Linked DNA regions of Homo sapiens: all the other regions are reported to be linked to region 2. Evidence: microRNA targets listed by miRTarBase, many of them from high-throughput screens and not tested one by one. Region 2 holds a microRNA gene; each other region holds the end of a gene's coding sequence.
Evidence for each region. The annotated mature microRNA hsa-miR-744-3p reads CUGUUGCCACUAACCUCAACCU and lies in region 2 at 4,029-4,050, opposite strand. An mRNA with a match to its seed (bases 2 to 7 or 8) in the 3' UTR can be bound and repressed. Matches are read on the target gene's strand: a 7mer-m8 pairs with bases 2 to 8, a 7mer-A1 pairs with bases 2 to 7 and ends in A, and an 8mer does both.

Region 1: miRTarBase lists UFL1 as a target of hsa-miR-744-3p. Seed matches in the 3' UTR shown: 7mer-A1 at 4,517-4,523.
Region 3: miRTarBase lists UNC13A as a target of hsa-miR-744-3p. Seed matches in the 3' UTR shown: 7mer-m8 at 3,076-3,082.
Region 4: the mRNA of NUCB1 is a reported target of hsa-miR-744-3p. The part of its 3' UTR that is shown has no 7-base or 8-base seed match.
Region 5: the mRNA of PRKAR2A is a reported target of hsa-miR-744-3p. Seed matches in the 3' UTR shown: 7mer-m8 at 2,097-2,103, 7mer-m8 at 2,542-2,548 and 7mer-m8 at 4,178-4,184.

What each region holds. Positions count from the first base shown.
Region 1 is chr6:96,552,673-96,559,060 of GRCh38, reverse strand. It overlaps UFL1 (UFM1 specific ligase 1), which reads right to left. Exons shown (of 19, transcript NM_015323.5): 19 at 3,785-5,776. The coding sequence ends at 5,558. Among named protein-coding and RNA genes, the nearest start is that of FHL5, 7.3 kb to the left of the region's middle.
Region 2 is chr17:12,079,614-12,086,015 of GRCh38, reverse strand. MIR744 (microRNA 744) reads right to left here and starts at 4,117; the gene lies at 4,020-4,117. It overlaps MAP2K4 (mitogen-activated protein kinase kinase 4), which reads right to left. Exons shown (of 11, transcript NM_003010.4): 3 at 4,486-4,660.
Region 3 is chr19:17,600,527-17,606,928 of GRCh38, reverse strand. UNC13A (unc-13 homolog A) reads left to right here. Exons shown (of 44, transcript NM_001080421.3): 44 at 575-5,593. The coding sequence ends at 875. Among named protein-coding and RNA genes, the nearest start is that of COLGALT1, 48 kb to the right of the region's middle. RefSeq lists silencers at 269-488, 859-1,118 and enhancers at 203-1,107, 1,108-2,012.
Region 4 is chr19:48,921,917-48,928,086 of GRCh38, forward strand. NUCB1 (nucleobindin 1) reads left to right here. Exons shown (of 13, transcript NM_006184.6): 12 at 1-16; 13 at 402-1,456. The coding sequence ends at 508. Among named protein-coding and RNA genes, the nearest start is that of NUCB1-AS1, 6.1 kb to the left of the region's middle. RefSeq lists an enhancer at 820-1,319 and a silencer at 4,996-5,290.
Region 5 is chr3:48,746,117-48,752,518 of GRCh38, reverse strand. It overlaps PRKAR2A (protein kinase cAMP-dependent type II regulatory subunit alpha), which reads left to right. Exons shown (of 11, transcript NM_004157.4): 10 at 202-343; 11 at 801-5,933. The coding sequence ends at 934. Among named protein-coding and RNA genes, the nearest start is that of IP6K2, 32 kb to the right of the region's middle.

The DNA of each region.
Region 1 (6,388 bases), not on the chromosome of region 2:
GTTATTATATTTCTCAGACTTCTTGGCTCCCCACATCTCATTATTTCATTCTAATTAGCGTCATAGTACTTCTGTACCTCCTTTTCTCTGCCTTAATATGCTCTCCTTCCCTTCTCTCATTTTCACCAAGGCTAATCCTTCTTTTTTTCTCTCTGGACTCTTGGTTCAGGTGTTATTTCCAGCCTCCCCATTGTGCAACACAGTCTAAATTTCATTTCTTGTCACAACACCCTCTGTGTACTTTTACCAAGACACTATATTTAACTGTAATTATTGACTTGTTATTTCTTTGAAAGTAAAACATACCTTTAAAGTTGATATGTGCCTTCCTAGTATTTAGCTGTCATACACGATCGAGTAAATTAGGCCAAGTCCATAAATTCACCATGTTCTCCCTTTCCTCCATTTCACCATCAATGTAATCCTGTCTTTCCTGCTCCTTAAAACAAACACCCAGATTGTCTTACTACTAATCACTTCAGAGAAATAGAGATGCAACTAGGGGCAAGTTTGATAAAACAAATAATACAACACTGGGAACTTATAAACATTGAATACATGTTTACAGTGGTTATTCCTTCTTTTTTATGATGTAAGTGTAATACAAATTGTTTTTCTGAAAGCCTGAAAGTCAGTTTCATTCTTAGAAGGTTTGAAAGAAGCCTCTCCTGGATCTATTTATTCTGTTGTACGCTTAGTAGGGTCCTCAAGATAGAGCAACTTGTGTGAATTTGCAGGTCATTTAAATAGCCACTTGAACAGTGCTCCCAGATTTGTGTGGAAAATGTACATCCCAGGGGAGTTTTGTGTGTGCATTTATTACATCTCCCATGTATTGGGGGAAATTCTTCATTGGTCTTAGTGAAAGAAAGTAAATCTTCCATCCTCTTACTCCCTCCCAACTCACATCAGTTACTTCTTGATAGAAAAAATCCCATTTGTTTCTGTGAAATGGTTTGGCTGTGCCTCCACCCAAATCTCATCTTGAATTGTAACTCCCATATTTCCCATGTGTCATGGGAGGAACCTGGTGGGAGGTGATTGAAATGTGGGGGCAGGTCTTTTCTGTGCTGTTCCTGTGATAGTGAATGAGTCTCAGGAGATCTGATGGTTTTAAAAAGGGGCGTTTCCCTGCACAAATTCTCTTGTCCACCGCCATGTGAGATGCGCTTTTCACCTTCTGCCATGATTGTGAGGCCTCCCGAGCCATGTGGAACTGTAAGTCCAATAAACCTCTTTCTTTTGTAAATTGCCCAGTCTTGAGTATGTCTTTATCAGCAGCATGAAAATGGTAAATTAGTACCAGTAGAGTTGGGTGCAGCTGAAAAGATACCTGAAAATGTGGAAGTGACTTTGGAACTGGGTAGCAGGCAGAGGTTGGAAGAGTTTGGAGGGCTCAGAAGAAGACAGGAAAATGTGGGCAAGTTTGAAACTTCCTAGAGACTTGAATAGCTTTGCCCAAAATGCTGAGAGCAATATGGACAATAAAGTCCAGGTTGAGGTGATCTCAGATGGAGATGAGGAACTTGTTGGGAACTGGAGCAAAGGTGACTCTCGTTATGTTTTAGCAAAGAAACTGGTGGCATCTCTCCCCTGCCCTAGAGATCTGTGGAACTTTGAACTTGAGAGAGATGATTTAGGGTATCTGGTGGAAGAAATTTCTAAGCAGCAAAGCATTCAAGGTGACTTGGGTGCTATTAAAGACATTCAGTTTTATAAGGGAAGCAGAGCATAAAGGTTTGGAAAATTTGCAGCCTGACAATGTGATAGAAAAGAAAAACCCATTTTCTGAGGAGAAATTCAAGCCAGCTGCAGAAACTTGCATAAGTAACAGGGAACCAAATGTTAAATCACCAAGACAATGGGGGAAAATGTCTCCATGGCGTATCAGAGATCTTCACGGCAGCCTCTCCCATCACAGGCCCAGAGGCCTAGGAGAAAATGGTTTCGTGGGCCAGGTCCACGTGCTGTGTGCAGCCTAGGGACTTGGTGCCCTGCATCCCAACCACTCTAATCATGGCTTCAGAGGGTGCAAGCCCAAGCCTTGGCAGCTTCCACGTGATGTTGAGTCTGCGAGTGCACGGAAGTCAAGAATTGAGGTTTGGAAACCTCCGCCTATATTTCAGAAGATGTATGGAAACGTCTGGATGCCCCTGCAGACGTTTGCTGCAGGGGCGGGGTCCTCATGGAGAACCTCTGCTAGAGCAGTGCAGAAGGGAAATGTGGGGTGGGAGCCCCCACACAGAGTCCCTACTAGGGCACCGCCTAGTGGAGCTCTGAGAAGAGGGCCTCTGTCCTCCAGACCCCAGAATGGTAGCTCCACTGACAGCTTGCACCATGTGCCTGGAAATGCCACACTCAATGCCAGCCCATGAAGGCAGCCAGGAGGAGACTGTACCCGGCAACGCCACAGAGGGGGAGCTGCCCAAGACCATGGGAACTCACTTCTAGCATCAGTGTGACTCAGATGCAAAACATGGAGTCAAAGGGAGCATTAAGATTTGACTGCCTGCTGGACTTTGACATAGGGATTGTAGCCCCTTTGTTTTGGCCAATTTCTCCCATTTGGAATGGCTGTATTTACCCAATGCCTGTATCCCCATTGTATTTAGGAAGTAACTAACTTGCTTTTGATTTTATAGCTTCATGGGAGGAAGGGACTTACCTTGTCTCAGATGAGACATTGGACTGTGGACTTTTGAGTTAATGCTAAAATGAATTAAGATTTTGGGGACTGTCGGGAAGGCATGATTGATTGGTTTTGAAATGTGAGGACATGAGATTTGGGAGGGGCCAGGGATGGAACGATATGTTTTGGCTGTGTCCCCATTCAAATCTCATCTTGAATTCTGACTCCCACAATTCCTACGTGTCATGGGAAGAACAGGGTGGGAGGTGATTGAATTATGGGGGCAGGTCTTTCCTGCTCTGTTCTCTTGATAGTGAATGAGTCTCATGAGATCTGATGAATTTAAAAGGGGGAGTTTCCCTGCACAAGCTCCTCTTCCCTTGTCTGGCATCATGTGAGACATTGCCTTTTACCTTCTGCCATGATTGTGAGGCCTCTCCAGCCACATGGAAATTTAAGTCCAATAAACCTCTTTCTTTTGTAAATTGCCCAGTCTCGGGTAGTCTTTATTAGCAGCGTGAAAACGGACTAATACACTCTGGTTCTAGTGACATTTCTGAGGAAGGAATGAACTGTTCCTTTTCAGTCTGATTCCAGCTTCAGATCACCATTGCACCCTGACCTTATCCATGGTGCTTTTTGGTCTAAGTAAAGCATTTCTCTAATAATACATTCAGGTTAAGCAACTATTACATTTATTGTCCTAATTTAGCATTAAGGTCTTTTCACAAAATACACTGTGATTTTGATACTATATGCCACTCTTCATCGGATCTTTCTGATGGCCAAGAGTTTCCTTAACTCTTGAAAAGCACATAAGTAAGTCTAGAGCTGGAACACATGAACATGAATACCTGAGCACATTTTCCAATATTTCTACCCCGACTGCAATAGCAGGAATTAGCATATGCAAGAATACAGCTACACATTTGCTGAAATCTAGTTAATTGAGAAATAATTTACTAAGATAAAATGGTTTGAGAATGGCAAACTCTCAAGGAATGAAAGACACTGAGAGCTCTGGAACTATTTTTGTGTAAGAAAAATAAAATCCTTTAATAATGTTCAAAATGAGAATTCAAAATGTATATATATAAAATATATGCACCAATTAATCTTTGTGTTAATTAATAGAAGCTTCAAAGTACTATAAAATTTAGTAGAATAGGTAACTTTATTTTAAATAACTTTCTTAACCCTGCCCATTAAGATCACAGTAAACATACAATAATTTTTATTATGGAAATTAATCTTTACATACAAAATCAGCTACGTAATTTTACTTACAAAACAATAAAAACTGTTCTTTACTGTGGCAACAAAAGAAGCATTTTGACAAATGAAAAAAATTAATGCAAACAAATTAAAACAATGCTTTTCTTTTTACTTGCTTCACTGTCTCTTCTATTTATTTTCTATGATCATTTGACACAAACATGGATTACTTTGATATCTACTGAAACATAAATGATAAGGTTCTTAAAGGTTGAATTAAAAGTCTGGGTGTTCAATATTTTAGAAGCTGAATAAACAAAACGAAATTGGGGTTTGTGATTACAGAGGATTTATCATTTTTTCCCTTTGCCCATATGAAAATATATAATAGAAAATTACCCACGGGAAAACATTTTTAAATTTAATGTTGCGTTCCTATCAAGTTTAATAATAATGCCAAGTTGGCAATTTAATTAATTACTTTCACTAAGGATTAATACTTTGTCTAGAATGGAGTAGAGGTAGACTGATCTTTTCGTATTCAAATATTTTAAAATATAAAGTTTAAAATGTCATAAGGAATTATATAAAATAGTATTTTTAAATATTTGAAATTTAATTTATAATTATATTCAAAATAATTAAATCCCTTTTTGATAAATAGTAAGTAAGTTGTTGCTTGAAATTCATTTGGTTGAAATGATTACTCTAAGGAACTCTTTTAGTTATTTTTAACTAATAATCTTTAGAAAAAAATGTCTATTTTTTAATAAGGGTTTCTAGTTTTGGAAAAAAGCTTCTAATGATTTAAATGCACTTACAGATGCTCCTACCACTGGAAAAGGCATCCTATCTGTTTTTCACACTAGTATTTACAAAGTATTATGTGACAGAGCAGCTGTTGAACTAAAAAAATAAAATGTACAAATGCAAACTGGGTCAAAGAAAAATCTTTGTATAAAATGCTTAGTTATTCCAATGTTAAATATGACTTATGCTTACTGGTAATAAATTGCATGTGTTCTCTCTCTTGTTAGTAGCTTGTTTTAGAAGAGAACACAGCAATGCATGGGCCACTCTAGCGTTCTTGTGCACCTGTAAAGGCATCCTTGCAGCCCCAACCAAAATCAATGTTTATTCTGCCAAAAATAAGAGCAAGGGCTTAGTAATAATTTTTCTTTTTTGTAAATTTCTGTATTTTAGTTTTGAAGTGCTTTCTATTTAAAAATAAAAAACATGATTTATTTTCATTTCTGACACAGAAGTGTTTCTTTTAAAAAAAAAAGACCACATTTTAAATTTCTGCTTAAATGTATATAAAGTATACATTTAAGTATACTGGCACTCGCAACAAATGAATCCTTCCCCAGGGATAAATGGATTGGAAAATTTGTTTTTCATTCAACATTTGGAAAGAGAACAAACCTGAAATATGTAATTTTTAAAATTATGTGAAAATAATGTGAAAAATTTCATATAGTATTTGTGTGAAAATCAGGTGGAAAAAAACTTCCATGAAGAACCCAATTTACAAAAATTCACATCTTTTTAAGATTTACATTTAATACAATACTACTGTTTTAACTGAATTGTGTGTGTATGAGGTGGTTTTTGCAGGGAGAGGGGAGTTGTATAGTGACTACTTTTTTGTGACCACTCACCTTCAACCTTGGGGGAAAATGCTTACTATATGACAAATGTAAATTAAGATCATTACTCTTCCGTCACAGATGATTTCCTAGATTTGAGAACAAGGTCTTTAATGGATGAAGAAAGTTCTTGAAGCTCTTTACGAGTAGTACTGGCAACATCTTCTTGTTCTTTGTCTAATTCATTATTCAAGGGATAATCTCCCTGCCCAGTCTTCTTACTTTGACTGACTAGCTGCTTTACAACCAAACCTTGATACTTTACCAAAAGAGCATGCTGATCCTGTGAAAAGGGAAAGAAAAGTTAATCAACACAATTTATCTTTTTGTGGAACAGATAAAGTAGAATTTCTTCAACTAATACACATTGAAGGTCCTCATCTTTACAAAAAACTGGCCATGTAAGTAGCAAGTCTAATCTAGCAGTTTCTGCTCTCAAGGAGTGTACAATTTAGGAGAGATAAAACATGAATGCAAATCACTTTACCATAAGTTGACTTATGGTAAAGTCAACTTATCACCTGGTTCTATCACCAAAGATACAGTCAAAGGGATAGGGAAGTTCCCTTTTAGCTGAGGGGTTTTTTAGCTAAAAGGGATAGGACAAGACTTTTGAATGGGTCCTTGATGGATAAGTTAAACCTAAAGAAGCTGAAATGGGAGATTTGACATTATTGTATCTTTTCTGAAAGCTTAATTTCCAAATTCAGAACATTCTTGAAAGATTCTTGAGCTATGTGGAATTTTAAAAAATTAATCTCCTAATCCACTGTTCACATTATTGGAAATGGGCTTTGATGTTAATGTATTTTATACCTGAGTGCTGACAGTAATTCATCTCAATCCACTCAAAATATTCAGAATGTAAATCTTTGAAAGTTTCAAGTGTATTGAA
Region 2 (6,402 bases):
ACCAATGTTTAAACACTAAAATGAACCTCCTCAAATCATTATTCATCATCATAATCCCCACTGAAATAATTTGGTAATGGAACTTTTGACAGAAGTGGCATGGTCTCTCCAGTGGCAGGAAAACAAGCCAAGCCATACTTTTCTGATACCTGACTTCCCATACTCACCATACTATCTACACCAGGGAGGCCTACTCAACCAGCAGATTAAAGTTCCGTTCTACTCAGGGAACAGCTGAGCTGTGGGCTGCTGATACTGTCAGCAGAGGGCTCTAGTCCTTACTATCAAGCATCAGGATTAGGCTGGGTCTCAACTCCAGGTCAAGGACACTAAAGTCAAAATCCAAATAATCAAGGAGAGGCAGGATTGCAGGAATCAAAATCAGGTTAACAGGCCAGAATCAGCAAGACTCACATCAATGAAACAGTAGAGGTGAAAGGGTAGAGCTGAGGTTCAAAAGAACAAGACAAGTTAGGCAGATCTCCAACAGAAAGAAAATACTTGAAACTCTTGCATACCAGGTCACATTGCTAACTCAGTCCGGCCTATGCACCTACCCTCAAACAACAGATCTGTTTTTCCTGATTAACCCAGATAATTTCTCAAGCAGAAGACTGAAAAGTCATCATAATGATCCACAATGACAAATTTAACATGACACATTCTTATTCCCACCTACCTGCTCAATATTATTCAGTTCTTCAATGAGATGACAGCTTTATTACAGTATTAACCCTTCACACAACAATTCAGATTCCACTGCCTGCCATCATCTTTAGTGACAGGTACTTCAGTCCTTATACTCCCTCTCATTTTCATTCTTACTTTTTCACGTTTCTTTGGTTTTTCGCACATATTCTACAAACATGAAAAGGGCATGCATACCTTCAAGAAGTCAATCTGGACATGAGTCTGCTAGAAAACAACAGGGAAGCTGGTACTCTAGGCATGCAGGATTTTTTACACTGCAGGCAGAGTCAGGTGGAGAATATACTGTCAGGCATCAGAGGCTTACAGTCATTCTTCCCTCTGTCAGCCATCTGAGCTTGTAAGCCCATGGTCTAAGCTGTGACATTTCATTTACTCTCTTTTCTCCTGTGTCCCTAGATTTTCTGTGGCATCCTGATTCTGACTGATGATGCTAGGTGTTTCTCCCAGATCTGAATTACCCTAGCTCAGAAACCTAATCCTAACTGCCTCTTCAAACATTTGGTCTGAACTCTGGGCTTTACCCCGCTACATTTAACCAGAGAGCTGGTTAACATATAGATGAGGTACTCCTCATCTATATGTTAATTGATGTGTTGTATTGCCATCCTCTCCCATTTCCACCTGCCAGAGAGCTGAGCAGGCACCTACTTTATGTAGAGGACAGTGACTGTTCATGTCTAATGTTTTCATTCAGTGGTTACCCCACCACCGTGCAAAACAGGACACTAAATAAATGTTATTTGTAAAGGATACTGATCACAGTTAGAAGTAAATCCCTGGTAAGAGTTGAAGGTTGTTCTCCCTGAGCTTTAAGAAACCCCAGAGGCAACACTGGCTTTGCCCTAGGCAGCCCTAAGACTAGTCATTCAGGCACAAGTATACAAATTACTCCCACTCACAGGAGAGCAAGACCCTTTTCCCAAGCACGTGCAATTAAAACTAAAGGGTAAACCATGTTCACATCTTAGGTCCTAATGCAGAAACTCACCGATAGCTTGGGAGACTGTCCTCAAACCAAACATCAAAAAATTGTTTTAAGTATAACTCTTACAATGTTACCTCACTAAATCTGATTATATCAAAACTGATTTTTAGATTAAGTCTTTGGGGTAATTAACTCTGGTTACTAAGAAGTCACCTTTTTCAAATATTTCTTATATATGGCAAAATAAATTTGGGGAAGGAATTCCTCAGAACTAAAAATGAGGAATAATACAAAGAAAAAAATCAAGCTAATATCACAGTTCACTTTTCTACAGATATTGCAAGTAAATCTTAAGGATCATTTCCAGCTTAACATCTAATAATGCAATCCTTCTTTATTCTCAAAGTGTGTATTAAGATGTTAGCACAGAGTTACTTCAAGCGTGTTTCTCATTTCACCAACAGCAATGGAAAGCTCTCAGCTGTGTGAACCACCGTCTCATGGTTCCTTTAAAACCGTAAAGTCTCAAATCAAACACCTCCTTAATCATACATTGATTCTGTATATTTGTGCCTGTCAATCCAGTCAATGTACCTAAATGAGGAATGAATGAACTCTCTCAAGTGTGATGAAAGACTATTCTTCTTTGAAGAAACCAATAATAAATGCATTCTTTAATTCAGAGATGGCATACATCTGTCATCAATTGGTATCAAATTTTAATGCATATTAATGCAAAAACACTTATTCTTCCAGTATTAATGAAGTCATGGAATCCAAAGGTACTCCTCAACTATATGTTAATTGATGTGTTGTACTGCCATCCTCTCCCATCCCCAACTGCTATGCTTGTTCAAGAATTCGAGATGGTAAACGAAGCTAGGTAGTACCATGTGGTGGGTATACATGTGACAGCAACCAGTTTGTAGGTCTCATGACTGCCTTGAAAGTTCTTCAAGTACAGCTGGGATTTTTAATAGCATCCCAACTGGAACTGTCACAGTAGCCAGTAGCCACTGATAATGTAACATTACAAATGATGGACAACAATTTCCTATTTTCATTCTTGAATTCCTACAAAACTTGAGTAAGCATTATACAACCCAAAATATTATCAAATTAATCAGTGAGAAAAACTTTTAAGTGTCAAAAGGAAGTACCCTCTTTACCTTTATGACCTTTTTAACAATGGCTAAAATCAATCCATATTACTAAAATGTTTAATAATGTTCATCAACAAAGTTGAAGCACACATAACACAAACTGTAAAAAGCAGGAAATAATTTTTTAAAATTACTTTCCCTAGTACCTGAAAGAAAAGTTTACAACTTTAACTATATAGGAAACCTTTCCCTTAAGATCCAGCCAACTAAAACTGGATGTCACACACAGGTAGCACAAAGGGACAACACAACATTCATCCAGGAGTCTAAATAAAATGACTCTTTCCACTTACACTGCAGTGGCACAAAATAGGAATACAGAAATCATTTCACATTCCAATAAAACATTTTATTTTAACACATAATGCAGAGTTCTTCACCTGTGCATCTTTAGAGGTCTACGGTTTGTATACAAAATGTTGTGTATATACACCTGCCTATGAAAAGTCTATAGTTCTCACCACATTTTAAAAATACAGCCAAAAACAATGTTAGGAACCCATAGAGAGAATCATAAAAATTTTCCCTACCACTAATTTAACATTACTTTCATATGACCCAGCAAAAAGAAATGCTCAACAGTGAAGGATACTAAAATAGTTACAGTAAGGTTTGGCTCACAACAGACTTCTACACAGAAAGCATTTTATTTTAATTTAAATTCATTCTCAAATGTCAAGAAAAAACTAAGGACTCTTATCAACCACTCTGACAAACTCTCAAAATAGGACACTAATAGGAAGATGATTAGCTTGGACTATATGCAAATCCATTCTGAATTCTTGTAAACTGAAACATTTTTGTTCCCATAGGAATTTTAAGCTCAGAGAGGGTATGGCCACAGCTAGCTTTTTTTCCTTTGTTTTTGCAAGTTGTTCCCCCTGTTGCTGATTTTCCTGAAATATCTTACATACAGCAAAGATTTGTTAAACATCTAAACAAACAAATGAATAAATTACAATTACATGAAACTAGGAGTCAGATGGAAACCACCAGTTCTTTACAGGTACCAGCATAAGCTTGCCAGGTATTGTCTATGGATCAAATCTCTGTTTCTGGCCATTTTTTTTTTTTAATGAACATATTAAGTGGCACGACACAATAAGGACAAAATGTGACAACATTATCACAAGGTATGCATTTCAGTACAACTTTAAAACCAGGGAACAGGGCAGTACTGAGTAGAGATGAAATAAACAAACAGAAGCCGAGCCGGTCAGGACCGAGTAAGGTTGAGGTTAGTGGCAACAGCATGTGCGTGGTTTCCAGGAAACCTTCAGTAAGACTGCTGTTAGCCCTAGCCCCGCACCTTGCCCAACCCAGTGTGCTGCGTCTTCTTCCAGCTCCCGCCTGGCTCAGTGCAGCACTGCCCTGCTCCCAGGGGTGCAGCCGCCCAGCCTGAACTCACCTTGGCAGTAGAAGGGCCTGAAGTTTAAAACATGTTAATGCATCATGCCAAAAATGCAATCAACATGCACACTTCATACACTCATGTTTCCAAAGAGATAGAAAATGTGCCACCAATAAGAAACCTCTACACAGAACACCCTCAAAGGAGTTGGAGAAACAATTTTTTAAACACCCACATTTACCACAAAAGTAGGAACACAACAACAGTGGTATTACTGCACCATGAAATTTCACCTAATGGATTAAAGTACCAAAAATAATCATGGCATCACCTACTTTAACTGCCATTATTTGCCCACTTGGTTTGTGGACCATTTTGTTGACAGAACCATAAGCTCCTCGTCCAATTTCTCCAAGGTCTTTCAAGTCCTCTGCAGTGAAATCCCAGTGTTGTTCAGGGGAGATCTTCAGTTTTCCTGATGACTCAATGCTGTGTGTTCTCAGTCTCTCTCTGTTAAAATATTGGGAAGCAATTTTTCCACATTTTAAATAGGTTTTAACTTTTTTCTTTTAGTACTGATTAATGTGTGGGAAAAATGTTTTCTAAATTACTAAAATAGTCTGACCTCCAGGTTTTTGAAGTTTTTCATTTGTGTCATCCTGGTTTTTTACACACTGGATTAAGAATGATCTAGATTTAGGTAGTCAATAGACACAGCTTCAACGGGATTCATAAAAACAAATTGCCAAGAAGATTTTTAAAAATTCCCATTTATTGATTAAACTAATTCTGCAGATCAGTTTTCATTTCTAAATATAAGATCTTATTCAAACTTGGATGATGGTTTATCCAAACAGCATTATCAAGTGAGAATCCCAAGAGCTGCAAACCTTATTGCGAAAAAGTTCTTACCCTATCTTACCCAACATTAGTTATTCCAGTGCCTCAATCTTCAGTTAGTACAACTATTCCCAAGGTTTGCTGTACCTTACAATCACCTGGGGGAGATTTTAAAAATCTCAATGCCCAGGTATCGTCCCATAGCAATTACATCTGAATTATCCAGGGACAGGAGTCAGAAAACAGTATTTTTAAAGACCCCCAGATGATTCCAGTAATGTTTGGGAACTAGTGCCTTAGTATACTGTCCTGTTCTTGTTAATACCATCCTGAGGTGGGAGAACAGTTAACTGAATAGCTAGCTGGCTCTAAGAGGAAAATTGCCATGTGCTATTCAAAATTGAAATTTTCAGCCCTCGTTCGATAAAGCAATGGGATAAAAAATGAGTGGCTCGTAGACAAAAGAGCTCACTCATTACATATTTCCATTAAATAAAAAATCATCTCCAAAATCTCAACCTGGAGATCAAAGTATTAATAACTTCTAACCATGCTTTGTAAAAAAGTAAATCCAATGAAAAATGTAAAATCAATCTGTTTCTCTCTCTTGCTCTCTCTCACACACACACCAAACCCCAATGTGTAGGAACAAACTATCAACCATACACACAATGAAAGAATTCATTAAATATCAACTACATTTTTCAGTTTCATACTAAATGATCAGGATCTCTTTTAAACTCTGATCCTATGATGCAAACAAGCAAAGTTTATGTGCTTGGTCATTATTTTTCTTCTTCCAAAATTTAGGAAAGTTTTCTCCAATTAGTAGAATGGTTTTCTGTAGCAACCTTTAAGGTTCCCAAAAAACTTAGAACTTTAAAATCTACCCCCACTCTGAGAATAATCGTATGTACTAATATTAAGGTTCAAAGTTACACTTCAAAGATTCATACACTTGGTCTAAATAACAATTTACTAAATCAGTGTTCCAAATAACAGACTTTCAAATCATACTAAGTGATAAGCTTTCATTCATACAAGTGCTTTTCAGTTCAAAGTCCTTTCACCCATATTATTTGATACTCTAGCATCCAGAATCACAAGAAGCCCGGAAATCAGTGGCATAAGTGACCATTTAGGTGAAGATGAAGCTGGAACTGATCTTTTAAGATGGAAATCAGGTCTAGGCAAAAATAGGAAACTCTTCTTGGTAATCTTTTTCATGAAGTAGACAGATTAAGCCTGAAAAAAGTTCTAACATGAAGAAGTTCCATGTATAATGATTATTGTTCTATAATCTTTGGCAAGTAAATACTATCTCAATGGCAAAATCACTGGTGAAATATACAGCACCAATCTACCACTGAGGGAAGCTGAAAAAAAGTTAATTAAAATTACTTGTAAATCAG
Region 3 (6,402 bases), not on the chromosome of region 2:
ACTGCTTAGGGGCAGGAGCACAGGTGAGGGGCATGCGGGAGGCGGTGTCACCCATGGTGAGGCACCAGGGCAGGCTCATGTCTGGAGGGCATCTTGGAAGTAAGAGGGGTGGGCTGGGGGTGTGGGGGGCTGGGGAAAGGGCCACGTCGTGGGTCTAGAGGAGAGCCTGGTTAAAGAGCTTCTGGGTGGGACATTAGGGGCAGGGCCGTGCGGGCAGCAGTTCAGCCGGCAGAGGGCACAGGCGCGGGTATCTCAGGGTGGGAGCATGGCCTTGCAGGGCGGTGTCTGAGGGGCGGGAGCTGGATGTAAAACTATGCGGTCATTTTTCGGTGGGTGGAAAAATGGGAAGAACAGGCGTGGGCGTGGCCCAGCTCGGGGTCAGCTGCTGTGGGCGCGGCCAAGCACAGGGTTGTAGGTCAAGTAACGGGGCAGGGGCGGGGCTAGCGTAGCGTGGGAGGTGACAGGTGTGGGCACCCCGGTGTGGGCGTGGCCCGCAAATGCGGTGGGGACGGGGCCGTGGGCGGGGCATCACAGTAGGTGTGGCCTGTCTCACGTTCCGCCCCTCCCCACGCAGCACGCTGAGCGCCGACGCGGGTCCCGAGTGCTATGAGCTGCAGGTGTGCGTCAAGGACTACTGCTTCGCGCGCGAGGACCGCACGGTGGGGCTGGCCGTGCTGCAGCTGCGTGAGCTGGCCCAGCGCGGGAGCGCCGCCTGCTGGCTGCCGCTCGGCCGCCGCATCCACATGGACGACACGGGCCTCACGGTGCTGCGAATCCTCTCGCAGCGCAGCAACGACGAGGTGGCCAAGGAGTTCGTGAAGCTCAAGTCGGACACGCGCTCCGCCGAGGAGGGCGGTGCCGCGCCTGCGCCTTAGCGCGGGCGGTCGGCCGAGCGGCACTGCGCCTGCGCGGAGGGCGCTGGGCGGGGAGGGACGGGGCTTGCGCCTTGGTGGGACCTCCCCAGGGGCGGGGCTCGGGGGGCTCCACGCCAAGGGTGGGCTGCGCCTACGCCCTTGACTCAGCTTTCCCTTTTGGGGAATTAGGAATGGAGGATGCCCCGCCCTCTCGGGAGGCCACGCCCAAGGGCGCGACGAAGGAAGGAGCCACATCCCCAACTTGAGGCCACGCCCCCAGCACCTAGGGGGCATTTTGAGCTGGGATGGGGGAAACCTCGTCCCTATGGAGGAGGCCACATCCCGGGGCTCTGGTACCGGGAGGCACCACCTCATGTCCCCTGGAAAAGCCATAAGATGGGACCCAGACCCCTGGGACCCCAGACCAATTGCCAAGTATGGAAATCTCAGCTCCCTCGAGGGGGGGCCCTGGGCAAGGGGTAGGGCTCTCTGGAGCGCCCCTCTAGGTGGCCTGGGGACTGGAGGGACCAGGATGCTGGTTGGAGGGCCCCGGAATACCGGAGTCCCTTTAGATATTTGTGCAAAAAATAAATGGGGGGAGGGGGGAGGATGGGATTTCAAAAGCACATGCGCCCTTGGGCGCCCAAACCCTGGGGGCCGAGGGGACGGCTCTGGTTCCCCACGCTGCCCCTACTTCCCTTTGGGAGTTTGCCTCTCCCTCTCCCCCAACAAACCCAGTCCTCATATCATAGAGTTCAACACACCCATTTGACAGATGGCAAAACTGAGGCTTAAAGAGCTGCTTGAGACTTGGCCAAGGTTCCAGGTGCCATACCCTCTGTGCCCCTCCCTTAGGCCTGTGTGCCCCATGGAAGGGTGGGCTGAGATCGGGATGACCTGACACAGCTCCCTATTGCTGCTAATTCCCCCTCGGCCTCCTCCAAGGGGTGGGAATTCCAGGCCAAGACCCCTACTTCGCCTTTCCTTCTCCGGCTGCCAAGCAGGACCTTTGCCCTCAGCCCTTTCTCCTGGGATCTCCATGGGGGATGCCATGAGGGCCTCCCACCACAAAAGAGAATTTGGGATCCCCTGGTCCCAGGTTTCTCCATCCCTTCTTCCTTTTCCAGAATTTTCCAAATAGGAAAGAACAGAAGGAGACCAGAAACTCTAGGGGGGAGAAAGAGAATGAGAGAAAGAGAATGAGAGAGAGAGAAACACAAACACAGTGACACAGTGAGAGCTTAGTCTCCAAGAGCCTATTCATTGATTCAAACACCCAAGCCACAGGATACCTCAGATGGCCCTCTTGCCAGCTGGAAGCTCTTTCTCCAATGAGCAAAGTTACAGTGACCTGGCTGGAGTTACCTGGTGCACATAGGACCTTAGGGGAAAGTTCAGCGTGGACTACACTTGCTCTGGGATCTGCTTTTCCACATGTGTGTATGGCACGCCTTTTTCTGCTGGATTGGGAAGGACAAGATTTTGCTGTGCTAGGGAGAAATGAAAACGGGGTGAGCTGAGTAGCTGGGTTTCTGGAGGATAGAACATCAGATGGGGAGGCTTTCCGAGGTGAAGAATGAGAGGGAACCACTTACTAGAGAGAAAAGAGCTCCAGGCCTGGGGAACAGCACGTGCGAAGGCCAGGAGAGAAGAACTGTTGAAACAACGAGAAGGGTGGCACGGCTGGAGCTGAGCCAGCAAGGGGGATCGTGAGGAGCCTTGGGGTTGGGGAGATCTGCAGAAGCATCAGACCAGGCAGGGCCTCGTACGCAGTCCTGAGGAGTTTTACTTTTATTCTAAGACAGTTGGGGAGCTCCAGGAGCTGTTTTAAGTTGGGGAGAGACTGGATTCCAGCCTGCAAAAGCTGTTTTGTGAAGACTAAAACCAGTGAGGAGAGGTGGAGGTGCTTTGGGGACACTGAAATGGATTCTTGGAAAGATTCTGAAGGCTGTGTTGAAAAGACACCTATAGCTGTGGGGACATGACTATAATCCCAGCATTTGGGGAGACCGAGGCTGGCAGATCACTTAAGGTCAGGAGTTTGAGACCAGCCTGGCCAACATGGCGAAACCCCATCTCTGCTAAAAATACAAAAATTAGCTGGGTGCAGTGGTGCATGCCTGTAGTCCCAGCTACTCAGGAGACTGAGGCGGGAGAATTGTTTGAACCCTGGAGGCAGAGGTTGTAGTGAGTCGTGATCACACAACTGCACTCCAGCCTGGGCAACAGAACAATACTCCATTCCCTCCCCTCTACCCCACCAAAAAAAAAAAAAAATCCTGCCCTTAGATGAGCTCTAGGGCTGCTGAGTACAGTTGTCCCAGTTGCACAGTGCCCAAGGGTTTGGCATTGCTAAGAAGGCCACGTGCAAATCCTAGATATTGAGTGTTGTATGTTTGTGACGTTGGTTTCCCGACATGTGAATGGCCCAAGTGTCTGGAAGAAGTGGCGCCACTTTCTAATTTGCTTGGAGATGTTGCATGTCCCTTAAATTCAGACAGGTGCAGGTAACTGGAGGTTCTGAACCAAAGGTTAAAATGCAAATTCTCATACAGGGTTGGGAAGTTGTAGCCAGGGATAAGCTTATGTGACTGTTATATGGACTGAGGAGCAGATGTGAATTTCGAACCATGACATGGCTGAGGGTAGGGGTCGGGTGGATGGATGATTCAGGGTTGTAACCCATAGAGCCCAAAGGGGAAGTGATCTGTGACCTGGGGTGAGGGTGATCTGGAAGATTTTTGGATGGCTGGAAAGAAATGGGGAAGTCGAGCTGCCTGAGAGAGCCAAGTTATTTCCCAAAAGATTCCTTAGGAGTCTTTCTGTTCAAGACCTCCGTGTGTGTGTGTGTGTGTTTAGGGTTCCCCAGCAATGGCCCAGGCATGTGAAGGAAACAAGCTTCTTCAGGGAATATTTGTTGAATGAGTTTTCCTGACTCCCAGGCTAGAACTGTTTTTGCAATTTCCACCCTCTTTTCTTTCCCCCAGAGAACTCCTATTCGTCCTTCAAAACCCATCACGGAAACCCCTCTTGGAGAAAACCCTCCTTCCTTCCCCTCAGGACTTTCCCAGCCACCGTCTCTCCTCCAGTCCAGCCTGATGCCATGGGACTGGGGGTTTCTCTGTCCAGCTCTGTTTCTCCCAGACTGGGGTCTGAGGACTCTCAGGACCCCCAACTTTACCTAGCACAGGCTGGGCACAAGTGGGTGACAGGGAGTCTACGCCTAGTGGAATTATGTATTGGGGCAGGGTCAGTGTGAGAATACACATCCGCATGCATGTCTGTCCATGTCTGTCCGTACCAACCTTCCCCTTCCACACGGACCTGGGCACATAGGAGGTGTCTGAGCCTGACACATGGGACAGAGAGTGGACATGGCTGAGACACGGACAGAGAAAAGACAAGGAGTCCAGGGGGCTGAAAGCCTTTTGAAATCAGGAAGTTCCTGTATTGGCAGAACAAAGCCCAGAGAGGAGCAGGGCTTTCCTCAACGCCACCCAGCAAGTGGACACAGAGCCCGGCCTTGGATGACACCTCCAGGGTTCTGAACCCTGGACCTCGCTTTATGCAAGGAGCTGGCCCCACATTTCCATGAATCGGGGAAACAGCACAAGAAGGTTGGCCTGTGGCAGGGCAAGGGTTAAAGGGGTGACATTGAGGGATGCCTCAGAGTCAAAGTCCCCTGACCAAGAGGAATAGAGTAGAAAACACAGAGACAGAGGGTGAGATCACGCCCCGATGAGGACGGAGAGAGACAGAGATGGAGAGAGACATAGAGGTGGAAATATACAGAGAAAGATAAATGCAGAGACCAAGGCAGGGAGTGTCGGGGGAAGTAAAGAGGGTGTCCTGAAGAAAGAAGGATCTGTTCACTCTTACCAGTCTGTCCTCGAATGATTTGCATAAAATGAGGAGGTGCCTGTCCACACCCCCAATTCCTCTCTCAGGCCCCAGAGCCTGAGACCTCACCATGCCCCCATCAGAGATGCAAAAAACTAAACACCCAACTAGAAATCCTTGGGACCTCTCTCGGCTGGGATCTCAGAGCCTTTCTGTCCCCTACCCCTACCCCATGTGCTGTCGATTTTGCAGATGGGGACAACCTGGGGCCTCCCGGAACTCTGCCACCCTGGGGAAGTTGGGGGAGGGCCTTAGTCCCGGATCACAACCCCGTCTGCTCCCCAGAATCCTTTCCTAAGAATCGTTGAGGACCAAAGTTGTCTTTGCTGACACGTGTTGCTTTTCTCTTTGCCTTTTATTGTTTCAGAGAAAAATCAAGTTGACTGTGTCAAGTAACACCCCACCCCTTACCCCCGTCCAGCCATAGTGGCTCTCTGGAGACACAGGTCACAGGCGGAGGGTCCCCTGATCATCCCCAACCACACAGCCAGGGGGACTTGACCCCTGTCCACCCCTGTCTCGTGCTCCCTCAGACCCCCACAAACCGGCCAAGCAGTCCGGGGAGGCTTCCCCTCCACACAACTCTTAGCATGTGATTGCAGATGTGAAATCAAAACGTTGTTTGTTTTTTGTTTTGTTTTGATTCTACCCCGTCGGTCCAGTGTCTGCACAGACGCCTTCATTTCTCTGTAAATATGTGACTTGGAACAAATGTTTAACACAAACGAGAAGTGGTCATGAATGCATGGTGTTGAGATGTTTTGCACTATTCTGACTTTTTGGTCTCTGTAAAAATATTTTATTAACAGCAGACATTAAAAAAAGAAAAACCACACACAGCCTTGGACACGTGGTTGCCTCCTCCTTGCATTCCTTTATCAGCAAAAAAACAAAAACAAAAACCTCACGTACGATTAGCACCTACTAGGTAGGCGCAGACTCAGTAGAACACACTGCTTGCCCATGAACGCGGCTCATCCGCAACTGGAGTCATCCCCATTTTACAGAGAAGGAAACTGAAGTACAGAGAGACAAGATCTTGCTCAGATCACATAGCCAGGAAGAGATGGAGCTGGGACTTGAACTCAGAACATTTGCAACCATTGCTTTTTTTTTTTTTTTTTGAGATGAAGTCTCTGTTGCCCAGGCTGGAATGCAGTGGTGCAATCTCAGCTCACTGCAATCTCCACCTCCCAGATTCAAGCGATTCTCCTGCCTTAGCCTCCTGAGTAGCTGGGATTACAGGCGCCCGCCACCTTGCCTGGCTAATTTTTGTATTTTTAGTAGAGATAGGATTTCACCATGTTGGCCAGGCTGGTCGCGAACCCCTGACCTCAGGTGATCCACTCCCTCGGCCTCCCAAAGTGCTGGGATTACAGGCGTGAGCCACCGCACCCGGCCATCTGTTGCCCTTAAGGAAGTTAAGATACAAACACTAGGAATACATGCCCTTAATTCAACCCACACCCCCATGCTTGTTTGGTTTTGTTGGGTTTTTTGGGATCTTCTTGTTTGTTTGTTTTTGAGACAGGGTCTTGCTCTGTCACCCAGGATGGAGTTCAGTGTCACAATCTCAACTCACTGCATCCTCAACCTCCCAGGCTCAGGTGATCCTCCCACCTCAGCCTCCTGAGTAGTGTGCACCACC
Region 4 (6,170 bases), not on the chromosome of region 2:
TTCCACCCAGACACAGGTGCTGGCCCTAGTCCAGGGAGGAGGGGCTGCAGGGCTGGACCCCTGGGTCTGAGGTTGGAGGGGCTGGGCCTGGACTCCCAGATCTGAGGGAAGAGGGACTGGGGGCCCAGACTCCCAGATCTGAGGGAAGAGGGACTGGGGGTCCGGACTCCTGGGTCTGAGGGAGGAGGGGCTGGGGGCTGGGACCCCTGGGTGTGAGGGAGGAGGGGCTGGGACCCCTGGGTGTGAGTGAGGAGGGGCTGGGGGCTGGACCCCTGGGTGTGAGGGAGGAGGGGCTGGGGGCTGGACCCCTGGGTGTGAGGGAGGAGGGGCTGGGCCTCTGGGGTCCTGGGGGAGGAGGGGTTCGGATGTCCTGTGCCACCATTCCCTCCCTCCATTTCCAGACGATGTACCTGTCCCAGCTCCAGCCGGTGACCAGAAGGAGGTGGACACTTCAGAAAAGAAACTTCTCGAGCGGCTCCCTGAGGTTGAGGTGCCCCAGCATCTGTGATCCTCCGGGACCCCAGCCCTCAGGATTCCTGATGCTCCAAGGCGACTGATGGGCGCTGGATGAAGTGGCACAGTCAGCTTCCCTGGGGGCTGGTGTCATGTTGGGCTCCTGGGGCGGGGGCACGGCCTGGCATTTCACGCATTGCTGCCACCCCAGGTCCACCTGTCTCCACTTTCACAGCCTCCAAGTCTGTGGCTCTTCCCTTCTGTCCTCCGAGGGGCTTGCCTTCTCTCGTGTCCAGTGAGGTGCTCAGTGATCGGCTTAACTTAGAGAAGCCCGCCCCCTCCCCTTCTCCGTCTGTCCCAAGAGGGTCTGCTCTGAGCCTGCGTTCCTAGGTGGCTCGGCCTCAGCTGCCTGGGTTGTGGCCGCCCTAGCATCCTGTATGCCCACAGCTACTGGAATCCCCGCTGCTGCTCCGGGCCAAGCTTCTGGTTGATTAATGAGGGCATGGGGTGGTCCCTCAAGACCTTCCCCTACCTTTTGTGGAACCAGTGATGCCTCAAAGACAGTGTCCCCTCCACAGCTGGGTGCCAGGGGCAGGGGATCCTCAGTATAGCCGGTGAACCCTGATACCAGGAGCCTGGGCCTCCCTGAACCCCTGGCTTCCAGCCATCTCATCGCCAGCCTCCTCCTGGACCTCTTGGCCCCCAGCCCCTTCCCCACACAGCCCCAGAAGGGTCCCAGAGCTGACCCCACTCCAGGACCTAGGCCCAGCCCCTCAGCCTCATCTGGAGCCCCTGAAGACCAGTCCCACCCACCTTTCTGGCCTCATCTGACACTGCTCCGCATCCTGCTGTGTGTCCTGTTCCATGTTCCGGTTCCATCCAAATACACTTTCTGGAACAAATGCATGGCTCCATGCCTGTGTATCTGGACTGGTCCCTCCAAAACGCTATTGCCACGTCACCTGCCGGAGTCCTCATCTTTGAAGACTGGATTCAAGCATCACTTCTGAGAGGCTCAATCCTGGTATTTTTCCATCTGCCCCTGATGAGTCTGCAGCCTTCACTCAGGGTCCCTTCAGCCACAAGGACAGAAAACCCAAACCTGGGATTAAGCAATTTTTTTTTTTTTTTTTTTTGAGATGGAGTCTTACTCTGTCACCCAGGCTGGAGGGCAGTGGTGTAATCTCAGCTCACTGCAACCTCTGCCTTTTGGGATCAAGCGATTCTCCTGCCTCCGCCTCCCGAGTAGCTGGGATTACAGCTGCCTGCCACCACGCCCGGCCTTCTAATTTTTGCATTGTTTTAGTAGTGATGGGGGTTTCACCATATTGGCCAGGCTGGTCTTGAACTCCTGACATCATGATCTGCCCACCTTAGCCTCCCAAAGTGCTGGGATTACAGGAGTGAGCCACTGCACCTGGCCGGGATTAAGCAACTTTTAAAAGATGAATTTGGCCAGGTGCTGTGGCTCACGCCTGTAATCCCAACACTTCGAAAGGCCAAGATAGGGGGGATCACTTGAGGCCAGGAGTTCAAGACCAGCCTGGTCAACATGGCAAAACCCCATCTCTACTAAAAATACAAAGATGAGCCGGGTGTGGTGGTGGGCACTTGTAATCCCAGCTACTCGGGAGGCTGAGGCAAGAGAATTGCTTGATCCTGGGAGGCGGAGGTTGCAGCGAGCCAAGATTGCACCACTGCACTCCAACCGGAGTACCAGAGCAAGATTCCATCTCAAAAAAAAAAAAAAGAATGTACCAGGTATGGTGGCTCCACCTGTAGTCCCAGCACTTTAGAAGGCAGAGGCGGATAGATCACGAGGTCAGGAGATGGAGACCATCCCGGCTAACACGGTGAAACCCTTTCTCTACTAAAAATACTAAAAAAATTAGCTGGGCGTGGTGGCAGGCACCTGTAGTCCCAGCTACTCAGGAGGCTGAGGCAGGAGAATTGCTTGAACCCAGGAGGCAGAGGTTGCAGTGAGCCGAGATCATGCCACTGCACTCCAGCCTGGGTGACAGAGCGAGACTCTGTCTGAAAAAAAGAAGGCTGAGGCAAGAGGATCACTTGAGCTTAGGAGTTTGAGACCAGCCTGGGCAACATAGCGAGACCCCGTCTCAGAAAAAGAAAAAAAATTAGCTGGGCATGGTAGTGTGTGCCTGTAGTCTCAGCTGCTTAGGAGGCTGGTGTGGGAGGATCCCTTGAGCCCTGGAGTTTGAGGCTGCAGTGAGCCATGATCTATCACTCCACTGCACTCCAGGCTGGGTGACAGAATGAGGCCCTGTCTCTAATAGAAAAAAGAATAAATAAAAATGAATTATGATAAAAACCAAGATGTCCCAAGGCAGGATGACTTCAGGGAACCAGGTTCTCGCATCCCCTAGCTGTGCCAAGGATAGGTTTGGGGGCTGGACCCCCCCTCATGGTCCCAAGGTAGCTGCAGCTGCTCCAGATGTCACCAACAGCCAGTGAAGGAAGAGGCCGCATTCTGTTCTGGGCATTGTTAAGTGGGAGAAAATCTGTCCCCAGAGTTCCCTCTCCTTTCAGCCCTCTCCTCATGTTCCCTTATATCCCACTGGCTGTGAGGCACAGGTCAGTGACAGCTGCAGACAGATCCACCAAGCTGGCATCCACCAGTGGTGATTTCATCCTCACCTGGGATGGGGATGCTTTCCTTGGACCAAGTTGGGGTCTGGTAAAAAGCAAGCGGGGAATATTTGTTTTTGTTTTGTTTTGTTTTTGGAGACAGAGTCTTGCTCTGTCTCCCAGGCTGGAGTACGATGACGCGATCTCGGTTTACTGCAACCTCTGCCTCCTGGGTTCAAGCGATTCTCCTGCCTCAGTCTCCTGAGTAGCTGGGATTACAGGTGCCCAGCACACACCCGGCTAATTTTTCTGTATTTTTAGTAGAGATGGGGCTTTCACCATGTTGGTCAGGCTGGTCTTGAGAACTCCTGACCTCAGGTGATCCCCCCGCCTCGGCCTCCCACAGTGTTGGGATTACAGGCCTGAGCCACCACGCCCGGCCAGGAGTATTTGTTTAAATGAAATTCTGGCCAGGCACAGTGGTTCATGCCTATAAGCTCAGCACTTTGGAGGCCAGGGATGGGCAGGGTGGGGGGTTTCAGGAGAGGATGACAGGAGGATGACTCAAGCTCAGAGCTCAAGACCAGCCTGAGCAACATAGCAAGACCTCATCTCTAAAAAAAAAAAAAAAAAAAAAAAAAAAATTAGCCGGGTGTTGTGGCATGCACCTGTGGTCCCAGCTACTCAGGAGGCTTAAGGACAGAAGAATCGCTTGGCCACAGAAGGTTAAGGCTACAGTGAGCCATGACCACGCCACTGCACTCCAGCCTGGGAGACAGGGCAAGACCCTTTCTCGAGAAAAATAAATAGGCCGGGCACAGTGGCTGATGCCTATAATCCCAACGCTTCAGGAGGCCAAGGAGGAAGGATCCTTTGAGCCCAGGAGTTTGAGGCCAACCTGGGCAATATAGGGAGACCCCATCTCTATGTAAAAAAATAAATAAATAGGGCCAGGCGCAGTCACTCACAACTATAATCCCAGCACTTTGGGAGGCTGATGTGGGCGGATCACTTGAGGGCAGGAATTCAAGCCCAGCCTGGGCAACGTGAAACCCCGTCTCTACAAAAAAATACCAAAATTAGCCGGGCGTGGTGGTGTACACCTGTAATCCCAGCTACTCAGGGAGGCTGAGGCACAAGAATCACTTGAACCTGGGAGGCAGAGGTTGCAGTGAGCCAAGATCACACTACTGTACTCCAGCCTGGGTGACAGAGCAAGACTCCATCTCAAGAAAAAAAAAAAAATTAGCTGGGTGTGGTGGCACATGCCTGTAGTCCCAGCTACTTGGGAGGCTGAGGTGAAAGGATCGCTTGGGCCTGGGAAGCGGTGATTGCAACGCTGCACATCAGCCTGGGTGACCAAGCGGGACTCTGTCTCAGAACAAAACAAAACAAAAATACATATTCCCAGATCCTGGAATGTCCTGGGAAGCTATATGTGTGTCATGCCCTCCCAGCTGCACCTGAACAATGAGCATAGCAAACATCAGCTGCAGCCTCTCTTTGCCTCTCTCAGAAAATGAGGGGAGTTGAGCTTCAGTGACCCAATCTGGAAAACGGGCCTAAATGGTGTTCTTTGAAAGGTTCATATAGGCAAAGCGGTCCCCAAATGCCGAAGGAGCCAAGAAACCAAAGAATGAGGCCGACCCATCTAGTTTGTCAATACAGGGTGGTTTATTAGGGGGAAACTTAGAGTGTGGTCTTCGCCAGGCATGGTGGCTTATGCCTGGAATCCCAGCACTTTGGGAGGCCGAGGCAGGTGGCTCACTTGGGGTCAGGAGTTCGAGACCAGCCTGACTGACATGGTGAAACTTGTCTCCACTAAAAATACAAAAATTAGCCAGGTGTGGTGGTGGGCGCCTGTAATCCCAGCTACTGGAGAGGTTGAGGCAGGAGAATCACTTGAACCCGGGAGGTGGAGACTGCAGTGAGCCGAGCTCACGCCACTGCACTCCAGCCTGGGCTACAAAGCAAGACCCTGTCTGGAAAAAAAAAAAAAAGAAGTGTGGTCTTGGGCAGCAGCAAGACAGATAGATCACACCCTGCAACCCCCAGACACAGGGCTTCTATCTCGAGGAAAGCATATCTGTGCTCTGGAAGAAACGCGTAGGTGGCTATGGGCGATACATCTTGTGATGGATGTGACAACATCAAGGCTTGTTCTGGAGGAAAGGCTGGTAAGTACGTGTTTCTACATAAAGAGTAACACATCCGTTAGACATGTTGGAGGCATTCCCAGTTTCGGGTTAGTCAGAAGTCACACGGCAGGCTGGGTGCAGTGGCTCATGCCTATAATGCCAGCATTTTGGGAGGCTGAGGCAGGAAGACCGTTCGAGCCCAAGAGTTTGAAACCAGCCTGAGCAACATAGTGAAACCCCGTCTCTTTTTTTTTTTTTTTGAGACAGAGTCTCACTCTTGTTGCCGGTGGCTCGATCTCGGCTCACTGCAACCTCCGCCTCCCGGGTTCAAGTGATTCTCCTGCCTCAGCCTCCTGAGTAACTGGGATTACAGGCGCCCACCACGCCCAGCTAATTTTTGTATTTTTAGTAGAGACAGGGTTTCGCCATGTTGGCCAGGCCGGTCTCAAACTCCTGTCCTCAGGTGATCTGCCCTCCTCTGCCTCCCAAAGTGCTGGGATTATAGGCATGAGCCACCACGCCCAGCCAACCCTGTTTCTTTCTTTTTCTTTTTTTTTTTTTTTTGATACGGAGTCTTGCTGTGTCCCCCAGGCTGGAGTGCAATGGCACAGTCTCGGCTCACTGCAACCTCCACCTCCCGGGTTCAAGCAATTCTCCTGCCTCAGCCTCCCAAGTAGCTGAGATTACAAACCCCGTCTCTTAAAAAAGGAAAAAAATCACATGGCAGAGTAGCATTTTAAAATAAAGTCACGAGGCTGGGCGCGGTGGCTCACGCCTGTAATCTCAGCACTTTGGGATGCTGAGGCAGGCGAATCACCCGAGGTCAGGAGTCTGAGACCAGCCTGACCTACGTTGAGAAACCCCGTCTCTACTGAAAATACAAAATTACCCGGGCCTGGTGGCGCATGCCTGTAATCCCAGCTGCTCAGGAGGCTGAGGCAGGAGAATCGCTTGAACCCAGGAGGTGGAGGTTGCGGTGAGCCGAGATCACGC
Region 5 (6,402 bases), not on the chromosome of region 2:
GTAAAAAGCAGACTTTTCTGATCAAACCAGACCACTGAGATTAGTCCATGGAGTTTACATGGTACAGTTAGTGAATTTTCTGCAAAGTGAATTCCTCAGTAATTGTGTAGAGTATGCTGAGAACAGTGTATGTGTGTGCAACTGGACATGCCCAGCTGTGATCCTGGAGTCAGCCTAGGTCATGTTCTTTGCCTGCTGTAGACTAAATCAAACAAGGATGGTGGGAACCAGGAGGTCGAGATTGCCCGCTGCCATAAGGGGCAGTACTTTGGAGAGCTTGCCCTGGTCACCAACAAACCCAGAGCTGCCTCAGCTTATGCAGTTGGAGATGTCAAATGCTTAGGTAAGAAAAGTTCTTTATGCATTAATATTCTTTTTCTAACATGTAATATTTTTTTCCCATCAGCAAGCCTTGACATATTCTGCCATCTTTTACTGCTGTCTAGGCCTAGGCAGTTTATGTGACCAACCAGAGATGGATGAATGGATGCTTTCAGCAAACATTTCTGAGTACTGATGACAGCCTGTGAGCAAGACAGGCATGCAGGTTCTTTAGCCGTATGAAAAGAACTGATGTCCAGGGCTGTGGGAGAATGGGGAGAACAGGAGCTGCTGGACTCTGTAAAGTCTCTAACCTGGATGACAGTCTTCTGAATTCATATAGAAACATCCCTTTTTGCAAGTGGCTGGTGTCCCAAGGCGTAATCTCATACAACATGAATGGGTATGTTTAGGAAAAGGTTTGCATGAGGGAAATGGCTTGAATTCATTCTCTCCCTCACCTCTTTTTAACAATGCAGTTATGGATGTACAAGCATTCGAGAGGCTTCTGGGGCCCTGCATGGACATCATGAAGAGGAACATCTCACACTATGAGGAACAGCTGGTGAAGATGTTTGGCTCCAGCGTGGATCTGGGCAACCTCGGGCAGTAGGTGTGCCACACCCCAGAGCCTTCTTAGTGTGACACCAAAACCTTCTGGTCAGCCACAGAACACATACAGAAAACAGACATGACAGAACTGTTCCTGCCGTTGCCGCCACTGCTGCCATTGCTGTGGTTATGGGCATTTAGAAAACTTGAAAGTCAGCACTAAAGGATGGGCAGAGGTTCAACCCACACCTCCACTTTGCTTCTGAAGGCCCATTCATTAGACCACTTGTAAAGATTACTCCAACCCAGTTTTTATATCTTTGGTTCAAAACGGCATGTCTCTCCAACAATTTAAGTGCCTGATACAAAGTCCAAAGTATAAACATGCTCCTTTCCTCTCTTGCTGCTACTCTTGCTTTTGGAAGTTACCACAGGGTCTGCAGAAACCTGTTGTATAACTGTAGACACTCTCTAATGGTTCTCAAAGGAGGAAATGTAGCCTTCAGTCTCCTCATTTGTCCTTTGAGGAAGTCCACATTTGTTCACAGTTGCAGCCTTTGGTTTTACAGTGGGAAATGGTGGTGGATGATATGGACATATGTAGCCCAGTGGCATTGTACTTTCTGCTGACAGCTGCACACATTACAGCTGTCTCCAAACCCACAGTGATGCTTAGGGAAAGACCCTGCTCAGGACCCAGCAGGTCAGCACCCCAGAGCAGACTGATAGGTCCGTGGGACCCATGTTAGAGCAGAAAATTTGGGCTCAGCACATTTTACTGTTAGTAGAGAGCCAGGAAACGTTTTCTGGGTTGGGGATTTTGTGGGATTTTTTAATTTTTTTAGTAGGTTTTGTTTAACCTCTGTGCAGTTTGTATGAATGAATTGCTATACATTTATAAGGAGCCAGGGTCTGGAGGGTTGCTATCACTTTGTCCAGCCCAAATACCTTCCTGGGCAACTCCTACCATTTGTTTGCAGTTGCCTCTACTAGCTGATGGCAGTATGCTGGAAAGAGGTTGTACTATAAAGAGAGTTCTTTCCTTCTACTCCAGAGTTGTTGTGTAGCTTTGCCATTGAACCGATCAATTTTTAAACTCTTTAAAGAAGCAGCAGCTATTTTTTTGAAATTAAAGAAAATTCTCAGGCCAGGCTCAATGGCTCATGCCTATAATTGTAGTGCTTTGGGAGGCTGAGCTGGGAGGATCGCTTAAGACCAGCCTAGGCAACAGAGTGAGATCCTGTCTCTACAAAAACAAAAATTTTTTTTTTGTTTTCTTTTTGAGACGGAGTTTCGCTCTTGTTGCCCAGGCTGGAGTGCAATGGTGCGGTCTTGGCTCACCGCAACCTCCGCCTCCCAGATTAAAGTGATTCTCCTGCCTCAACCTCCTGAGTAGCTGGGATTACAGGCATGCGCCACCATGCCGGGCGAATTTTGTATTTTTAATAGAGACAGGGTTTCTCTGTGTTGGTCAGGCTGGTCTCAAACTCCCAACCTCAGGTGATCCGCCCACCTCAGCCTCTCAGAGTGCTGGGATTACAGATGTGAGCCACTGCACCTGGCAAAAAAAAAATTTTTTTTTAATTTGTCAGGTGTGGTGATGCATGCATGTAGTCCCAAATACTTAGGAGGCTGAGGTGGAAGGATCACTTGAGCCCAGGAGGTCAAGGCAACAGTGAGCTGTGATCATGCCACTGCACTCCAGTCTGGGTGACACAGTGAGACCCTGTCTCTTAAAAAAAAAAAAAGAAAGAAAAAAAATTATTCTTTAGGTAATTTCACTTGGACATATTCATGTATATGGAGTTTGTCAGCTGACTCAGGCATTTACCCTAAAGATCAAATCTGTTTTCAAAAATTGGCATTGGCCAGGCACGGTGACCCACACCTGTAATCCCAGCACTTTGGGAGGCCGAGGCGGGCGGATCACGAGGTCAGGGGTTCAAGACCAGCCTGGCCAACATAGTGAAACCCCGTCTCTACTAAAAATACAAAAAATTAGCTGGGCATGGTGGTGGGCGCCTGTAATCCCAGCTACTTGAGAGGCTCAGGCAGGAGAATCGCTTGAACCTGGGAGTGGAGGTTGCAGTGAGCCGAGATTGCACCATTGTATTCCACCCCGGGTGACAGTGCAAGACTCCATCTCAAAAAAAAAAAAAAAATTTGGCATCATTTACAATTTCATAGAATTACTGTGAAGGCCTTTCTAGTTGAGATGTTGGGGTATTTGGGATTCTAATTGTTAACCCCAGAAGAAGGTAATTTAGCTTGTATTTATTTAAAACCCATTTAGCCTTTTACTTATATCTGGTAGAATTCCAGTGATCATCCTAATAAGGTATATTTCAGAATAATTTTTTTTTCCTTCAGAATAACTTAGAATCAGATGCTATAAGGGCTCCTAGGAGCAGTGTGAAATTTCCGTAAAGATAAATTTGAATGTTGTAACCAAGTTTATATTAAACCAAGAGGCCATTTCCAATATGATTTTTTGTTTCTTTTTAACTTGTTAAGTCCCTAAGAGATTACATGCTAGGGCTTGAGTCATTTCTATTGTAGATAATGATGGCCCACACAGTCACCTTCAACTATCCACATAAGCTAGGCTTTCCGCTTTTGCCACGGACAGTGTGACCAAGATATTTCCAGAGTAAATAACCCACCACAACCTTGGTAATTCCTCTTTTCTTCTTAAGCTCCAGGAAGCGAAAGCAGAAGGACTCTTTTCAGACTGCCCTCTGTAGCCTACATTGCAGCTTTCCAAAACAGGCAGCTAGCACTGGGAAAGCCCATGTGGTGACCCCATATTTTTCTGAGGTTCTTCTTTTCCATGGTGTTACTTTATTATCAGAAAGTAAATTCAGAAAACAGGTCTTGCCCTTAGCAGACAAGAACCACACCAGTTTCTTGTAAAGGTAACGGATACATTGGGATTCAGGAGTGACACAGAGGTCCAGCCCCAGAACTTGTAAGGATTTTGTTTGAACACTGAGCAGATGCCTCCTCCCTGCCACCCATCACACTAGTTAGGGCTGGCCATGAATTCTATGCCAGAGTCACTCCTGCAGTCTGCTAGGGATGGGCCTTCTTATCCCACTCTCGCACACATCCCAGTCTAGTCTTTGCCTTCACAGAGTCCTCCTTGACACCCCTGACTTAATGATAGTTGCTGTTTTGGAGTAGAATTGATCAGGTTTAAGTCATCCTGCTCAGGTTGGGCATAGTGGCTCATGCCTGTAATCTCAGCACTTTGGGAAGCCAAAGTGGGAGGATTGCTTGAGCCCAGGAGTTCCAAACCATCCTGGGCAACAGAGGGAGACCCTGTCTCTACCAAGAAAAAAAAAAAAAAAAAAAGTTAAAAAAACAATTAGCTGGACCTGGTGGTGCACACTCAGTAGGCTGAGGTGAAAGGATTCCTTTAACCTGGGAGACTGAAGCTGCAGTGAGCCATGATCGTGCCACTGCACTCCAGTCTGGGGGACAAAGTGGGACCCTATCTCAAAAAAAAAAAAAAAAAGTCATCCTCCTCCAACTACTGATTGACATATGGATCATCAGTTCAGACCCTCACTGCATACAGGATCCCTAGAGGGTTCTATTTAATAGCTTGAGGAAGGGAGACTTTAAAAGGACGTGTGTGAGTGAAATAGGATATAGCCATTACCACGGTGCCAGGACCTGACAGCGTTCCAATTCTTTTTGCAGCATGGGGAATCAAAGGTGGCATGCCAAGTTCAACTCAGGGCTGAGGTATCCACATTGTCCACATCAGGCAAGCCCTGCACTGACGGTTGAGCCTCATGGAGAGGAGCATGTGTTGGAAAGAGATCCCTTTGTTAACTGTTTTGTGGTGTTCTCTTCAATGAATTAGAGCTCATGCCCCTTTTCTGGCTTTGCTGTTGATTTTGGATGGTAGAGAATATTCCTGAGAGCCTTCCTTTTGGCCCCCAGCTTATGCCACCCACTCTCTTCTCTTGGTTGAATTCTCTGAAGGAAAGGTTCATGTGCTATTGTCCTGTTAGTCAATAGTCTTCATATATAATTGTGTTACATATATTGCTGTAGACTCTCAGAAATCAGGGTAGAGCTTTTCCTTTGAGCAGTTTAATGAGTGAATTCAGCAGCAAAGTCGCAAGAAATGGTTCTCCAGCCAGGAGAGGTTATGTTTATCCTCTGATTGCCCGTTTTCTCTGCACACAGTGATATCGTATTCAGTGAGAGGTGCTGTTGGCACCCAGCAGCACCCTGGGCACACAGCATTTCATGTCATGTCACAGTGTACAAGCTACCCTCTAATTCAGAAAGAAGAGCATTTTGCACAGAGAAAAATAAAAAGATCCATGAATGTCATCTTTTATCTTTTATTTTCAGTTGGCTGATGTTGGAATTTTTGTTCTTGTCATGAACTTGTAAACCAATCTTGCCAAGATACAAGTTGTTTTGGTTTTTCACTACAATGACCTCTTGTTCCTCCTGTCTTGACTGCTGACGTTCCTCAATGATTCTATTGTCTATTTTATGGGAAGCAGCCTTCCCATAGGTTTCCTTTTACACACTGCAGGGCTATCTTTATACTTTAAAAAAAAAAAAAAAAAAAAAAAAAAGGACAAGAACTGTCACTAACCTCATGGAGGGGTTTGCGTAAAACCATTTAGCCCACCTTGAGCAAAGGGTAGATTCCGTGTTGTTTTTTTAAGCTCACTGTAATAAAATAAATCTAATTCAGCATTATTGTGCTACCTCAAAGGTAAAAAATGTTTTAAGGTCTTCTTTTGGTCCTGAGTTCTATATACAGTGTTTGAAATGTCCTTCATTTGGAATTATTTTTTAAATTCTTGGAGTGAATTTTATTTTAATCTGTTTTAATCTTGTATTTTAATCTCAGAAGAATAAGTGATTGAAACGTGATCAATTCTTGCTCTGTGGTGTTAAACATATAATGAACAGTCATTAAGAATTAAGTCACTGTTTGCCATAAACAAGGTTGATGTTCTTTTTGTTGTTGTTAAGGAAACCCTAGGGCTCGGCTTTACTCTTGATTAATAAAGGCTGACAAATCATGTCTGACTTTCTGGTGCAGTCTTATGTTACGTGTTTGCCATTTTGCTTCAGGGCTCCAGGCCGTCATAGCACTCCTTTGGCAGATTCATTCTTCTGGTAGATCTGGGATTAGGGTATGAGCCCTTGAAAATTAGGGACCCCTTGTACTAGTCAGGGTTCTCCAGAGAAGCAGTCAGTAGGGTGTGTGTGTATGTGTATAAAGATTCTTTTTTTTTTTTTTTTTTTTTTTTTAGTGACAGGATCTCACTATGTTGTCCAGGCTGGTTTCAAACTCCTAGGCTCAAGCAGTCTTCCTGCCTCAGCTTCCAGCTTCCCAAAGTGCTGGAATTATAGGTGTGAGCCACTGCACCCAGCCTAAAGATTTATTATAAGGAATTGGCTCACACAGTTATGGAGGTGGGCAAGTCCCAAGATCTGCAGGGTGAATTGGCTAGCTGTAGACCCAGGAGAGCCAATGGTTTAGTTCCA